3 separate regions of the Homo sapiens genome follow, and all the other regions are linked to region 3. The links come from fine-mapping of genetic effects on gene expression. A gene starts in region 3. Each other region holds a variant in brackets. All regions are shown on one strand. Distances are from middle to middle.

Region 1 (5,537 bases), 110 kb before region 3:
AGTGGAGTGTACCCCAGGGTGGTGTCCATGACCCCTTCTCCTTTCTCGCTGTTCATCATGTTTCTAGAGAGCCTCACGCAAGCCCATCCTTCAAACATCAGCTGTAAGATGTCTCCCACATGCGTTTCTCTAGCCCGAGCCCTGGAGCCCATAGACACCTCTCATGAATGTCCCACAGGCGCCTCAAACTCACACCTGTCTACATGAAATTCATCATCTCCTGCTCAGCCCCAGCCTGCCCACCTTCTGTGCACCCTCCCTCCTCCTGATGACCCACGTCAGAAAGCTCAAGGTTCCTTCCTCATCTCACACTTCAGTGCAGGCCATTTCCTACACCACAGCTCTCAACACTACCTTCACTGCCACTCCCGGCTCAAGGCCCTCCTCATCTCTCAACCTGACTGACAGCAATGACTGCTTGGAATCCCTGCGGCTGTCTTCCTCTAACCACCGACTATACAATGTGCACCTCGAGGGCCTAGGTCCCACATTTGCTGGATTTGGTGAGCACTTATTTCAAGTCATAAGGTGAATTCTGGAACATGAAAGAAGCTGGAAAGGAAGGCAAGGACCTTGCAGGGCACTTTAAGGTGTTTGAGTCATTTTCTTAGTTCAGAATTATTTTTGTCTGTAAAGGACAAAGACAGCTCTGCTTAGTATTCCAAAGAAAATATCACAGGCTCTGAAGGAGAACCCCCAAAGCAAGTCTCAGGAAAGTCAGGGCTAATGGTACCATCACTGGAATCAGTTTCAAGCTTTCAAGGCGATGATTTTAAAGGGGAAACCACTCATCTGGGTGGATAAATCTGTGTGAAACTGAATTGTATATGAAAGGCATATGAAAATGGTCTGAGCTCCAGCTGCCATCCTGCATGCCCTGACCCTGCCATGATGGCATGCATGCCACAGTCCTTCCCTGCTCATGGCACACGGGCAGCTATGCCCAATCTCTTCCATCCTGTGCAGGGAGAGGCTCTTCTGCCTCTTTGTACAACCTGCCACTCTCAAGGGTAAAGGAAGGGGAAACAGAATTTTTCAAGCACCCCATGTGTCTGGCTCTTTGTTGCATGCACCTCATGGGCCAGCTCACTCAAACTTTAGCCCCACCTGTGGGGTGGCCATTTTTTGCCCATCTCACAGATGAGGGAACAGAGGTCCAGAGCAGTGAGAGGGCCCAGGGCTGCAATGATGAGGCTGCGTGTGGACTCCAGTCAGACAGTACACTGTTCCCACTAGGCTGTGCTACCTTTTGGCTTTTTTGTCTTCACTTGTCCATGCCATTTTTAGGAAAGAGATTTGGTTTCCGTCTTTTATTTCAGGCATGGAGAAGAAACAGGAAGTCCAAAGAGCAAGAGGATGCTGAGCCAGTCCTCTGCCCTTGGCGGCCAATGCTCACGAGAGCAGACATGTGGACCTGGCCATCCCTGGAGGTCCCCAGCCTGCACAACTATGCTTACAATGACACTTCGGTGGGCCGGCGCGGCTGTTCTGACTTCTCTGCCTGGCTGGCCTGTGTCAGTGTGCCACGCTGCTCCTGTGCAGCAACACTTGCCTAGACCACCAGAACCAACTGGAAAAAAAGCACAGGTTGGAGCCAAAGGTTGGCTCTGCTGCTCTACTGGTTCTGTGACGTTGGGTAGGGCTTTAGTTTTTGTGCGTCATTTTCTTCAACTGTGTAATAGTGATAATTCCTACTTGACTGGATTGTCATGAAGATTCAACAGGACAACATATGTAAAAGGCTTGGGATAGAGAAGGCATTCATAAGTATCCATAATACTAGTAATAACTGAACACTAGAACATTCTAATAGTTATTACTGATGATCCCATTTTACCATTGAAAACAACCTATAGCTTTTATGTTATACTCATCAAAGTCACTCATGCATTCAACAAAGAATTCCCCTGCGGAAGGCCGCAGGGTCCTCTGCCTAGGAAAACCAGAGACCTCTGTTCACTTGTTTATCTGCTGACCTTCCCTCCACTATTGTCCTATGACCCTGCCAAATACCCCTCTGCGAGAAACACCCAAGAATGATCAATAAAAAAAATAAATTAAAAAAAAAAAAAAAAAAAGAATTCCCAAACACTGTTCTGGGCTCTGGGTGAGGAAAACAAGACAAGATTCTGCTCTCACAGAGCTTGTGCTCTATGCGGGAAATCAAGTAGGGTCATGGGACACAGTATCTGGGAGCTGCTGTAGGTGGGGTTGCCGGGTCTGTCTGAGGAAAAAATACCTGAGACCTGTAAGACATGCCAGGAGTGGATAGAGAGAGCTTGAAATTTCAGGTGGCTTAAGCAGCAACACAAACGCCTCAGTCTGAGAAGCTCAAGGCTGGGGAAAGACTGGATCCCATTCTTCCTCAACAGAGCTGTCTTCATGCTCCACTCCTTATCTTCTTGAGGGCTGGAAATCCAGCTCTTCCCTGATTAACTAGGGGACTCTGGGCAAGACCCTTTGCTGCCTTTTGCCAATGTTAAAATGAGATGCTAATGTTCCACCACCTCTTTGTGCAATTATTAAAAGTATCATGGATAAAATGAGAATCAAAAAGTTTTGTCTACTGCAAACTGCTGCACACTTAAAATGCTATCACTTGCCAGGCACAGTCACTGGAGGCGTGCCGTGTGGTAGTCACATTCCCCACGTCTTAGAGGACAGTGTCACATCCTAGCAGCTCTAGGTGACATCTATTCCCACACACAGATAGCATATTCCATCTGGCTTCTGTCACACCAGTGTCCAGATGAGCTGCACACAGACATTGCTGGACGTGAGCTGGCAGGGGCTTGGCAGACCTATCAGTTCCTTTTGAAACCCACCCATAGATGGTAAGCTATAGCAGCTGGAAACCAGAAGGCAGGTAACTAAAAGGAGGTGCTATCAGTAGTTAAGGTGTTACTCTTTTCACTTTTCAGTCATTATCTTACTTTTTTCACATTACCATAGCACTAGCAATTCAAACAATTAAAAAGCATCATAGTGGCATTTATAAAAGACCCATTTAGTCTAGAAGACTATTTTACTGTTGTTGAAAAGACATCTATTATTAGTAAAATTCTTCCAAGGCAAAATGTCTTCTTTAATTATGCTACTGCAAATTTAAAGCATATGAAAAGCACCGTAAGAATTAGGAAATCAAATGGGAAAGTGTATATAAAATACACATTTATAATTTTTAAAACTCAGTATAAAAATAAGGGCAAGGGCATTGAGGATGAGTTTCTCCTTAGTGAAACAGTCTTATGAAAACCAGTTAAAAATAAATAATTAGGCAGAGAATAGCATTACCATTTGTATTTCTTCTGGGG[A/T]TAACTCATCTTCGCCTTTGCCATCTCCCCACGTTCCCAATTCAGGTTGTGTTTCAGCCAAAATTTTTTCTGTTAAAAAAAAAATTGAAAATAGAAGACCAAATATGTGTTTTAGAATAGGCTGGCTTAGGATGTAGTCATAACACAAACAAGAGATTAAACAGAATCTTACAGCTTTGTCTATATATTTCATGATCTTTGGGCTAATATTCAGGCACTGCAGACATGATTCTTTCACAACATTTAGGCTTTAAATTGTCTTTGTGCAGGCACGTGCATGTGTGTGTGTGATGGGGAGGGGGACCTATGCACGGTTTCAGTATCGCACTGATGTCAGCAATGGCTGCAAACTAAATGGACATTATTCAGAATGTCTTCAGAATTCTTCAGAATGAGTCTTAAAGTATGTTTTACTTCAAGACACATACACCCCTGTCTACTTTTAAAGACTGTAAGACATATTTTTATTGTAAAAAATACATATGCATATATACATACATATATATATATATACAGGAAGTGATATACTGTTCTCCAATCCTATTCCTCTCCCAGATGTTACTGCTTTGATGTAGCTTCATAGATTTTATCTAAAGATATTCACATACAAAGATATATGAGTCCCTGTCTACCCATGAAATTCAAGTAATACACAGTTTTGTGTGTATGGCGGCTTGCTTTTCACACAGATATCAATAGTAACATGCTGTTCTAAAACTTGCTTTGTATGATTTATTGATACATCTTGGAGATGGTCCAAGTAGATCTACCTTGTTCTTTTAAATTGCTGCATGATATTCCATCGTGAGGATACACTGGTCTTTAGCCATAACTACGCTGACAGACCTCAGTGGTTTCAGACTGTTCACTGGTGTCATGGTACTGTGTCCCGGTCTGTGCTATGTGCACATGCTGGAGTGACTCTCTAGGACAGATACCTGGGCATGCAACTGCTGAAAGGGAGCGTAGGAACATTTTAATCTGGAGAACTTTTTCATTATGATCAAGGAAAGGTGATGCATCCTCCATTGAAGCATGTCAATACCACAGGCCCCTAGAAAGGACTGCTGCCGCCCAGGATGACGGTAAGAGGTCTGTGCAGTTCATCACCGGGGTAGGGTTGGGAGCGGAGGGGAGAGGGATGGCAGGGATGGATCCTCGGGGGAGACTGTAATGAAGTCACTTTGTGTCTGTGTCTCAGGGCTTATCAGTGAGCTTCCAAGTACTCAAAGGCAAATACTGCTTCTTTTTCCTTTTTTCCTCAATCTCAGTAAATTTCCTGTAGTCAGTCTCAGCCCCATGAGATGGCAACAAGTCCAGATCTTTAAATAGGGGAAGAGAACGTAATGATAGCAACAATGTAGAGAAAGCTCACTAGGCAGGCCATGCCTGAAAGTTATGGTTATTTATTAGAAATATATCTTTACAAAAAAAACTGCATGTCATCCACAACTTAGTGCATGCAGGCTTTTAGAAAAATGGCTGTTTTTACCAGAAGTGTCATTATAGAAAAACATGTGTTTGTAAAAGGTTGGCTAAAAGTATCTTTAGAAATGATCTGATATTTTCCTGAGATGACATTCTTTGGGTAGGAACATTTGTACTTTCATCTACCCCCCACCCCCACCTTATGAGCTGTCTCCTACTTGTCCTCATTATGGTATCCATTTCAAGCTTTTACTGTTGTTGATTTCTTTTTTAAGGAAAAAAACATCAAAATTAGAAACAGAAACCTTGTTCATATCTGAACCAAGCATAAATTAACTCTGAGCTAGAATGGGAAAGTTTTCTTAGCAGAACTCACACTCTACAACATGCTCATTTGTGGCCATCAGAAGCCTTCTTGATAGGCTGCCCTAAGGATCAGCCTGAAGCACAGCACCCACCATGCCAGTCCTCTGCCCAGGCCACCCGTGCACCCTGGTGCCACAGAGGCAAGTCCAGACTCCCTACTCTGGCATTCAAGGCCCTACCCACCCTTCCAAGCTTACTCCCACCTCTCCTCCCACTGATGGGCTTCACTGATCCCCACGGGTCTTCTTTACTGACTATATCCCACCCAATCTCCAGGCTTTCTGGCCTCTGAGCATTTGCTCATGCTGCTGCCTCTGTCTAGAACTTTCTAAGCTTTCATTTTTTATTTTTTCAGGTCCAGACTCACTTTTTTTTTTTTTTTTTTTTTTTTTTGAGACGGAATTTCGCTCTTGTTGCCCAGGCTGGAGT
Region 2 (5,432 bases), 120 kb before region 3:
TCTGACCCCTCGGTGGGGGCCAACGAGCTACCCATGTACATCCCTGGACATGAAGAGCTGGCCTGACCCTGCCAGGAGTACCCCCACCCACCCTGGATTGCTCCTTTGGAGGCTGGTGAGCCACTGCCTCTCGAAAGCAGCTGGAGGTGGGCGACAGGTGGTGGGTCTCATGAACACACGCAGCTCCGCGGTCACACAATTTTGTGATCAGCCCCGTGAGCTCTGCCCAGCAAGGCTCCTGGGCAGCTGTGCCGGCGAGACTAACACCCGCTGCTGGGACTCAGTGCTGCGCCACGTCGCACCTGGGGAACCTAAACAGTGCCTACCTCTCTTATGTCTTCGTTGCCTTCCTTGATATTTTCAGTTGCCCCCACAACTAACTGGTGAATGCTGTCAATCTCAGCTTCCTGTGGAAGAAAAGATAAATACAAGTTGAGTATCCTTTATCCAAAAACCTGAAACCCAAAATGCTCCAACGAGCATTTCCTTTGAGTGTCATGTCAGCGCTCAGAAAGTTTCAGATTTTGGAGCACTTAGGACTTCACATTTTGAAGTTTAGGGATGCTTGACATATACAGCCACTTCCTCCTCCCTGAAGCGTATATCATGACAAGAACAGTAGCCGTCACCAAGGGCTAACGGCTTTACTTGCATAGCCACAAATCCTCACAGCACCCCAAGAAGTAGGTATTACCTCTATTTTATGAAACGGAAACTCACGGCTCAGAGAAGTTTACTAACTTGCCCAAAGTCACATCACACAGCAACCAAGTGGCAGGACTGAGACTTTTTTTTTTTTTGAGACAGGGCTTAAACGATCCTCCCACTTCAGCCTCCCAAGTAGCTGGGAGTATAGGCATGTGCCACCACGCCTGGCTAAATTTTTAAAATTTTTTGTAGAGATGGGGGGTCTCCCTATGTTGCCCAGGCTGGTCTTGAACTCTTGAGCTCACACCATGCTCCCGCCTCGGCCTCCCAGAGTGCTGGGATTACAGGCATGAGCCACCGCGCAGGGCTGAGACCCCATCTTGTTGCAGTGCTCCTTCCGCCACACTTACCATCCCTCCTGCGCCACTCGCCGGTGACGGACAAAAACCTAAGAGCTATTGTTTGTGGAGCAGCCACCATATGCCAGGGGCTTCCCTTCTAGTCTCTCATTTCTTTCTGAAGTCCACAGAAGTAAGCTTTAAAATGTATGTGCTTCGAAATACATATGCTAGCTTCAAAAATAGTGCTTTGTGTTTTACTATCATCATATCTCTTAAAAAACAGGCTAAAATTTAAAAATCAAAATAGGATGCAGGATGCTTACAGAAAACGTTTACTCCAAACGAAGCCTTGAAAAGCTTGAGAAGCGTGGGATAACACAGGGGGCGTCTGGCCCCACAGGAGCAGAGACGGTGCTAGACGTCCTTACAAGCAGGAGTGCCTGCTTCTCTCCTCCTTTCGGTGGTGGTGAAGCTGCTTCCTAACAGGGTCAGGGCAGAATGAATGCTAGCGTGGGTTTTTAGAGAAACCTGACTGACACATTGTAGGGAGGAAGGCAGCATGTGGCCTCTGATTCCCAGCAATGAATATTACTGGGATGGCTTTGCCTCATCATCACCCCTTTTTAGAGAGTCTCAAAGTGTGAACTAAGTGACCACTGCCAAGGTTCCAATGAGAGAATCAATATGAACTACAATGCAACACTGATGGAAAAAACAAGAAAGACACATTGTTCCTCAGGACTTAGGAACTCCCAGTGGGCCGGGCGCAGTGGCTCTCGTCTGTAATCCCAGCACTTTGGGAGGCCAAGGCAGGTGGATCACCTGAAGTCAGGAGTTCGGGACCAGCCTGGCCAAGATGGTGAAACCCCGTCTTTACTAAAAATACCAAAATTAGCCAGGCGTGGTGGCATGCCTGTAATCCCAGCTACTCAAGAGGCTGACTGAGGCAGGAGAATCGCTTGAACCTGGGAGGATGAGGTTGCAGTGAGCCAAGATAGCAACATTGCACTCCAGCCTGGGCGACACAGCAAGACTCTGTCTCCAAAAAAAAAAAAAAGAAAAAGAAAAAAAAAGAAAAGAAAAAGAAACTCCCGGTGAGCCAAGGCAAGGCTCTGCCTATGCTCTGCACGCCCCTCCCAGGCCCCCTGGAGCCGCTGGGAGGTTTGAAGCAGGGTAGTGTTATTAAAAAGGGCGACTCCTATGAACCCGAACTTGCAAACCACTGTTAGACTTAATGTACCTCATTTACAATGATTTCACTCTGGCTGTGTGGTTTATGGAAAGTCATTTTGTGAGTGAAGTATCTTAAGTCAAGTAGTCCAGTTTAAAATACTGGAGAAAATTTTGTCTTTCAAACGTTCCCATAGTCTTTGGATGCTAAAAATAAAAGGGCAAATTTATCAGGTCTTGAAAAGTTTTGCCAGTTATTGGCTGGAAGAATTTCAGAAAATTCACTTGAAAAGAACAATCCTATTTCCCACGCAGACACCATCCCTGAGGTGGCATGGACCGCGCGTTGTGAGAGGCCTGGGTCTGAGCTCCTGTAACCTACTGACTGAAAAGCAACTGCCCGTCAGCATCGTGCTGGATGCTTCTGCAGTTATCTCTCAAACAGAGAATAACCCTGCAGGAGTCCCTCCCTCCTATAGATGGGAAACTGTAGCTTGTGGGGGCTACCTAGCTTACCCAGCACATCCAGAACCCTGACTGCCAGGCCTGGACTCTCCTCCCACGTGCCACCGCATGTGCTACCACATGGGGTGGTCAGTGGGTCCCCTGTGGGGAGCTCCTCCTCCATCACACGTGTGCAGAGGCAGCTCTGGGTAGTGAGAGCTTTTCCCTGAGGAGCTCTGCGCACACACACCTGCTAGCAACACATGGCTCTGCTCCTGGCTGTGTAGAGCAGCAGCCTTTGGGAAAAATGTCTCGTGCTCTCAAGTACATTCCCCTTTGAGTGAAAAC[A/G]TACAGCTCCTTTGTTTTTGTTTTTTTACCTGTTGCAAAACCTTTTCCGTGAATATCTCTTGGAGTCTGGAAATCTCAACCACTCTCCCTTCGATTTGCCTTCATAAAAAGAACAGATTACATATTAACTATTAGCACTTGGTAATCTAACAGGACTGTTACACACTTCTAAAGAAATCCTATCTTCTACGTGAAGGTGGGAGAGACAGGGGGCACACTGTGTCGGCTGGGGGAAGAGGAGATGGGAGAGGAAGGCGAACTCTCCTTACTGGGTCACCTTCCCTGTCTTCTGGCATAGCCTAGCACACTGGTCTTTTTGGAAGTCCACTCTACCATGCCAACTGACCCTCAGTCCCAAGAGGTGGGTGTGTGCAGTGCCCTTTGCATTCTGTGTCACTGCTCGGGGAATGGGGAGGGCCTGGTTGTGCCCCAGTTACAGAAAGCAGTCTCCAGTAAGTTCTCTGCCTAGCCTCATCACCATGGTAACACATGGTGGGGATTCAGAAGGTCAGAATATGCTGATGATCCAGCTTTGTTAATGCTCAGCAGGTTAAAGAAAAAAGTGTATTTACCTTCAAACCAACTCCCTGTTCCAAGAAAAAAGCTCCTCTGATTCATTTAGAAAATGCCATGTCTTGGTTTGGCAACGGAGTGTTCTGTCGGATCTGAAACACTTGGGCTAGCCATCTTCCTGGTGTCAGGGGCAGCATGGGCTACCCTGGGGGGCGGGTGGGGGCACATCTATTTAGAAACAGAAGCTGGCCCAAGCTGAAGTCAACTGCTGTTCCAGCACAAAGCAGCGACAGGAAGTGACAGGAGGCAAAAAGTGGTGGGAGCTGAGCTCCTGGCCAGGTGGAAGCAGTGATGAATCCCAACAGTATCACAGTGGCAGGGGGCAGGGGAGGAGATGTGGGAAGAAAAGCCAGTGAGTATCTGGGCATGGGGGAGTAGCGGGGTGGGGGCGGTAGTGGGGCAGACAGTGAAAGCTAGGCTGTCAGAGGAGGACTAGGAGGTCCATCTCTGAGGGCAGAAGGCGAAGAGCCCCTTGGAGGCTGACACCTACACTGAGAAAGTCCTCAGGCTGTGTGAGTGCAGCATCAGGATTGATTTTATTTGGGGGACATGTCCACAATACAACAGGCTCTGCAAAGTCCTGGGCCTTACTTTCAGCATGCTCCAAGCCTTCCCACAGAAACTAGAGGCTAACGGGTGCATGTGTGAGTGACCAAGGCCTTGCCTTCTGCATTCCTGACTCCCTGGTGGGTACAGGAGCAGGCAGACCCCAGTGGAACCATTTGCAGAAGAGGGCTTCCCTTGGTTAGCTGCCCTTCATAAGGGCCCCATTTCATTTCAGAGTCGCTGCGTGGAAACAGCCCGAATGGTGGTGGAAATTATACGCAGGTAATCTGTAGTCACTCCTGTATCTCTCGGGGTGGGAAGCACCTGGGCCCCCCGCAGCAGTGGCAGCAGGCAGGAGGTAACCCACAGGCCCACAAGCTGAGGGAGTTGTGGATTCAGGCCACATGCCCACCCCAGCCCAGTCAAAATGGCTGAGGGGGGCTGCACCAGCCCAAGGGCCCCATGGGGATGCCTGGGCACCAAGGTAAATAAAGTTCCTAGTTCCTGGAAAAGTTGTAAAGCAGGCTATCAGCTCACAGAGGAGCTACAAACATACCTCACTTCATCAAACAAGCTGTTCATTTCACCAATTAGTCGCTGATTTTCCTGTTCAAACTGTGAGGAAACAGACACACTCAGGATGACATCATACTGAACTTAGGCAAGAGTCTAGCAAGAAAGCGGACCTACGCTCCAGGAATCACTGCCGAAGCCCCCATTTCCAGCTGCGGCAACGTGGCAGCCGGTGCTGGACGACCGTTAGCATTAGTGTGAACAACGTCCCTGCTTTCAGGAGAAAGTTTTAAAAAACAGCTGTGCTGCCTGGTAATTGACTTCTCCATCTCAACCACTGCACTCCAGGGGTACAAGCTGACTGCTATGGCTGTAGCTGTATCTACCTACCCGCTCTCCCCTGGGATCCCACGGCCTGCTTCCTGACTCTAGTACCATTATTAAGAAAATTCTTTTGTTGTTGTTTTCTCTCATGAACTATACTGAAGGACTATACATATTTTTTAATATGGAGAAGGATCTGGTGTGGGGAGGGTCTGGAGAGGAAGGGGAGGTGGGCAGCTTGGCCGAGCTGCCTCTGGGCCCCTCTGACTTCAGAGCCTGGCCACTCCACTGCTCAACAGGGACAGAGGCCCAGAGCCAGAGGAGCGTGTTTCCCAGTGCTCAGGCTGGGTGAGGACGGGTGCCCTGACACCAGGGATACATGGGAGCTTCTTGGAGCTGAGTGAGCTTGGCACAGACAGTTGCTCTCCCAGCCATTCTTGCCAGTTTGATATGGGCCAAAGAAAAGGATGGAAGCTCCTGAAACTCAGCACAGAGAATGGACAGGAACAGCTCCTTGCCCTCACT
Region 3 (5,537 bases):
AGATTTGAACCCAAGGCCCAGGTCTCTTTCCAATCCCATCATCCTCACTAGTCCCACACTTCAAATGAGTTAACTAATCAAATTCCCATTGCAGAGTGACATATTCATTATTATTTGGAGTTGTTCGAATAATATAAGTTCCTCCCCCAAATAATCTGAAAAGTCGTTACTCTCCATTTGTAATTTAATGGGTAGACATGCATTTGAGTATATATAAATTTAGTAAAATTGAGCATAAAAGTTAAATGTTTAAAAGAATGATGCAGAAGCAATCAGCCTGTTGTTGGAAGGTAGGGACTGCAATAAAATTGCAGTTTCAATGCAATTTTATTCAACTTAATATAACCTCTACAACAATTCAGTGAGATGGAAATCTGGCATCAGGCATATATTTGAGGAATGGAATGGAAGAATAGAAATTGAACCAGATAAAACGCATCCTAGAAGTAACAGCAAATGCTTCAAGGAAGGCACTTACCAAAAGGCATACTATAACTTATTACATTTCATTAAGTCTGACAACCAGGGCTAAACCTGAATTAGAATATGTGCTTCTGGTATTTACCAGACTTTTCTCTATAAGGAATCCAGGCCAAACAAAATAACAGCCAAACTTTTGACATCTAATTGTAGTAAAAGCACAGGACATCCATCACTAGCTCTTCTAGTTAAACTTCCCACAAGAGAAGATGGGGAGTGGGGAACGGTTGCAAGAACAGGAGATAATACACAAAGCAATGACAACATAAAATCAAAATTGCTTAAAAGAATGTATGTTTCCTCTACGTCAGGGGGACAGTGTCCCTGAACAACACAGCCCATGAACTCACTTAAGGTGATGTGACACCTACTCACATCAATACATAGCAGAACTGCAAGTTGCATTGTCATGCGGTCCAACCCTGTGACATATGCACAAAGCTTTTCTCAAACATCTCTGAAAAGCAGTCATCACTCTGTTTAATCACTTCCAGTGACAGGGAACTCAGCACCCTATGGGACTGTTACTGTCCCTGAGGCCCATTAACTCAAAACTCAAACACATTTTCACCACTCAGGGAGAGGTGGAAGTGATCACAGGGCTCTCCAAAGGGCTTGCCAACCCAACTGTGCCTCCTGTCTCTACCATTCCCAAATCCCCCCTTTCCCTGAGCAGGACTCAAAATTAGCACAGTGTTAATAAATCAGTGGTTTCAGAGTTAGAAGGGACCCTTAAAAAGCCAATACTGTGATATTCATACCACAGTTCTACAAAAGGAATCTCAAGAAGTGCTTGGGCCAAACTGGGAGGGAGAGTGTCCTGTTTCTCTTCCTCTTATTTCAACCTAGGAAGCTCCCACTTTAATTTGTTACATATAGAGGACCAAGGTAGTTTTTTAAAAGGAGGAGGAGAAAAAAAGGACCATTTACAGGTAAATAAACTGAGGTCTTAAAACTTGCTTAATGAAATCATATAGCTAATAGTTGCAGGGTTCAGACAACAACCTCGTCTCTTGGCTCCTTCTCTGGTGCTTTCTCTACCAGATAACATCTGACCATCTACAGGGCAAAATTCAAACTCTGCAATGATACACAAAGCCCTTTAAGATCTCCGCGTCCAATTTTTATGAGAGTCCCACATTCCAGTCTCACTCAAATGTTTATTGAACCAACTTATGTCAGACTGTTACCTACCTCCACAGCTTAGCGCATACTATTCTCTTAGCCTGAGATGTCCTTCTGCACTGGAACCAACTAATCCTCTTTCAAGATTTGTTTTAGGCATCATCGCCTCTATAAAGCCTTTTCTGGTCCTCAGGTAGAACTGACCACATTCTTTTTGTGCCCTACACAACACCTGCAAGGCTTTATGGCACTTGTTTTATGTCTATGTCCGTCTACTCCACCACTGCTTTTACATCATATTACTCTAACACGAGGCTGGTCAGAAGGTAGGTGCTTCATAGACGGTCATCAATAGGGCGAGTGTATTCATCTGGTCCAATCCCCTTTCTAATGTTTAAGTATCCTCTGCTAACTGTCATTAATGCATGCATGACTACATTCATTCAAAAATATCTGAGTGTCTATACAGTGCCAAGTGTATGCCAAGCAGAGAAGGATTTACTGTGAAATTAATGAGGCTTAAGCTTTAGGGTCCCTCTCTTCAATCTTCCAAAGCTCTGAATCTTTCTTGGTGATTTTTATTTCTTGAAGAGGGCAGACAGAACTATATAAGCTGTAGGCCCCACAAAACCTAGATACCTCCTTGGTGTCACGAACACAAAAGGGAACAAGACAAACAGCTCTCCCCTTATGGAGTTTTCTGTTTAATGGGAAAGACAGCCATTTGTTCATTCACTCATTCAACAAACATTTACTAAGCAATGCTATGAGTCATGCATTCTGAGATGAAAACAACACTGTCCCTGCCCTTAAGGAAAAGGTTCCTGTTCCCAGGGAGATGAAGGGACACCTGCTCTGATCAGGGAACAGAAAGTAGTTGAGGTGACTGTAACACTGTGTTTGCGAAAGATTACCCTAAACCCGTCTCAAGAGGAACTGAGTCCTACTTATTGCAGAGACAAAGGGAAGAAAGAGTTCGGCTGAATACAGTTTTTAATCTCAACTAGGGGTGGGAGGCAGACAAGTAAATAGAACAGGCAAATATGGTGTGGTCAGTGCTGCAACAGGAAGCGAAGGACTGTCAGGAGGTTTCCCCTGAGTGCAAGTCTGTAGTGACGGCGAACTCATGACCTCACAAAGCCGCCCATGCACTTTCCAGATAGAGATTTCTGAGGATCTCCTTTCTTGTCCCCCAATCCCTGTCGCCGCAGGAGAAATCTGTTCCCCAATATGCGTCCCCCTTCCTCAAAATAAGGCTGTTCCTTCCCCCAAAAAGCTGTAGGGTCTCTGAGGCCAACTCTTCTGTCCCCCTTAGAGCCACCCCCTTCACACAATGCTTACGGGACGGGGTCTGGTTTGGGGCCCGGGGTCCCTGTCGCAGGACTGCCCCCTCCTCAACCCGCCGTTTCCATAGCAACCAGCTCACCACTTCGCGGGCCCGGCTGGAGAAGTCGCCCTTGGGCCGGGGGCTCCGGCGGAACAGCTCGTCCCGGCTGCCATCGACCCCGCCGCCCACCGCCACTCCCAGCGCCTTGTTCCGCGTCTTCACGGTCTTGACGCTGGCCCGGAATAGCAGCGTGATGTCCACCGCCATAGCGACCCGCACCCTCAGCCCCACACTAGGCCCGCCCACGTAAGCAGCCGGCGACCGCGGCGCGAACCCGGCCGCTGAAGGACTGGTCCTGCCCCACACGCCTCCCCCCGGCAACGGCGACGCGAGAAGAAAGGTTCCGGCCTGCGCCCTGCTACCGCGGCGGGAGGAAAAAGGTTCCGGCCTCAGCCGGCGCACCTGGCGGAGGAGGAACCTCGCGACGCGCTCTCGGGCATCGGTTTCTCCCAGCAAAGCTTGGAGGGTTTAGCTGCGCGGAGAGCTCAGCGAGCTCTTCTGTGTCTGTTTGGGGCGTGTGGGCTCCGGGAGCGTGAGGACCGGGAAGCTAGGAGGCTCCTTCCCTTCTGGCGGCTCCCTCACTGAGACCGGGCGGTTTGGTTGCGGGGGAAGTGGAGACGAGCCACCCTTGACCTTTGACTGCAAGAACTCACCTTGAGCAGGATAGAGGCACGTGGACGGTGACCCTCGGGATGCAATAAATGCTGAGACAGATCAGGTGTGCAAGGCACAGAGCTAGAGGCCAGAGGCCTTTCTTCTCCAACCTTCAGTCACCTCTTTTTAAAGTGAAGCCAGCATCCTCCTCGGGGTTTACTGTGAAAATTAAGTGAGCTGACGCGTGCTGTGTTTTGATGTTGCTTGGCTCCTAGTAAGTGGCCAATAAATGGTAGTAATCGTTAATAATGTTATTATTATAATCACTGTTATTTGTGGTAAAGGAAGAGGCTTTAGAGAAAAGGCGTCACCTGTGCAGAGATTTGAAGGATGAATAGGAAGTTTAGATGGAGACAAAGGTGAAAGAGTGGCCCTAATGCCGCTGGATTCTCTTCATCCTTCATGCATAGTTTTTAATTGTACCGTCTTGAGCCATAGCTATTAAAATTGACAACTCAATCAATGAGTTTCTTCTGCATTTTAGGTTCATGTTCTGTTTTGTGTTGTTTTTTGAGACGGGGGTCTACTATGTTGCCCAGGCTGGATTGCAGTGGCTAGTCAGAGGCGCCATCCTAGCTCACTACAGCTGGAACGCCAGGGCTCAAACGATCCTCCCGGACTCAGCCTCCTGAGTAGCTGGGACTATAGGCACGTGCAACCGTGCCTGGCCTATGGTTCAGTTTTAATTCAAAATCTCATTGATTTCTTCAAGATTTCTTTTTTCATAAAGAGGAAGCACAAGTAGAATATGTATTAAAACAGCAGTTTTAATGGTCATCAAGATAAAATTTTCACAATACTAAGATGTTATTTGCCTTTTCGCTCTGATTTTCTTATGAGTTGCATACAGTTGAGTTTGCTGGAGACTGTGATATTGCAACGGAGTAAATGCAGAACAGCTGTTTTCTATTAAGCCAGACTCCAAAAAAAGACTTTCAAAAACATCAAGTTTTTGTTTTGATTTCTCATATAGTAAATGTCGATAATGTCAATATAAACCAAAATTGTTTAGAGCCCTTAATAATTTTTAAGTGTGCAAAAGAGTTGAGACCAAAAGTTTGAGAACCACTGTGTTAAAAAAATAAAGTTTATCAGAAATAGATGTCAAGAAAGTATATATTTACCAGAAAGGAGGAAGGAAAAGATTTTTTTTTTCTTTGAGGCGGAGTCTTGCTCTGTCGCCCAGGCTGGAGCAAGCTCCGCCTCCCGGGTTCACGCCATTCTCCTGCCTCAGTCTCCCGAGTAGCTGGGACTACAGGCGCCCACCGCCACGCCTGGCTAATTCTTTTGTATTTTTAGTAGAGATGGGGTTTCACCGTGTTAGCCAGGATGGTCTCGATCTCCTGACCTCGTGATCCGCCTGCCTCAGCCTCCCAAAATGCTGGGATTACAGGCGTGAGCCACCGCGCCCGGCCAGGAAAAGATTATTTAAACCCAAACTGTAGCCACTTCTTGCAGTTTAAGGAAAATAAATTTCCATACAGCTTTCTTCCACCTACTGAGGAAAAGAGAAAGAAATTACAAAATCTCTGCCAATGATTCTATCTTGCATAAATGGCCCTTTGTTTAATCCAGACATTAATCAGTTTTTGGCCATGCAAAGTTAAGCCTGGGGTAGAGTAGAAGGAAAGAGAGATTGCCCTGCATAATAAAGTGAGGGGGATTGAATTGGGGGGAAGAAAAGAGAAGCCAGAACCCAGGGAGGGGGCCGGGAAAGTACAAAGTAGGTAACTGGGAAGGATCTTTGAGTGGGAGGGAGGCTGAACTACACCAAGCCTTCAGTGAGTGGTGCCTTGTGTAAACCGTGTGTTTGGTGCAGTTGGATATTTTGGGTAGAAGGGTAGGGACAAAGATCTAAGTTTTCTGTCTGGATTTGCAAGAGCAGAGAAGA

What was found. PIP is the estimated chance that this variant, and not a neighbour inherited with it, causes the effect.
Region 1: its variant is fine-mapped to the expression of STX18 in skeletal muscle (GTEx, PIP 0.91).
Region 2: its variant is fine-mapped to the expression of STX18 in tibial nerve (GTEx, PIP above 0.99).

What each region holds. Positions count from the first base shown.
Region 1 is chr4:4,431,476-4,437,012 of GRCh38, forward strand. STX18 (syntaxin 18) reads right to left here. Exons shown (of 11, transcript NM_016930.4): 7 at 3,295-3,383. Among named protein-coding and RNA genes, the nearest start is that of NSG1, 47 kb to the left of the region's middle. The variant A/T (reference allele first, on the strand shown) is at 3,315.
Region 2 is chr4:4,420,538-4,425,969 of GRCh38, forward strand. It overlaps STX18 (syntaxin 18), which reads right to left. Exons shown (of 11, transcript NM_016930.4): 8 at 4,627-4,685; 9 at 2,981-3,050; 10 at 327-407. Among named protein-coding and RNA genes, the nearest start is that of NSG1, 36 kb to the left of the region's middle. The variant A/G (reference allele first, on the strand shown) is at 2,952.
Region 3 is chr4:4,538,766-4,544,302 of GRCh38, forward strand. STX18 (syntaxin 18) reads right to left here and starts at 3,283. Exons shown (of 11, transcript NM_016930.4): 1 at 3,032-3,283. The coding sequence starts at 3,199. It overlaps LOC124900165, which reads left to right and starts at 3,366. Exons shown (of 6, transcript XM_047416490.1): 1 at 3,366-3,710. STX18-AS1 (STX18 antisense RNA 1 (head to head)) reads left to right here and starts at 3,366. Exons shown (of 6, transcript NR_037888.1): 1 at 3,366-3,710. RefSeq lists enhancers at 3,153-3,432, 3,157-3,451.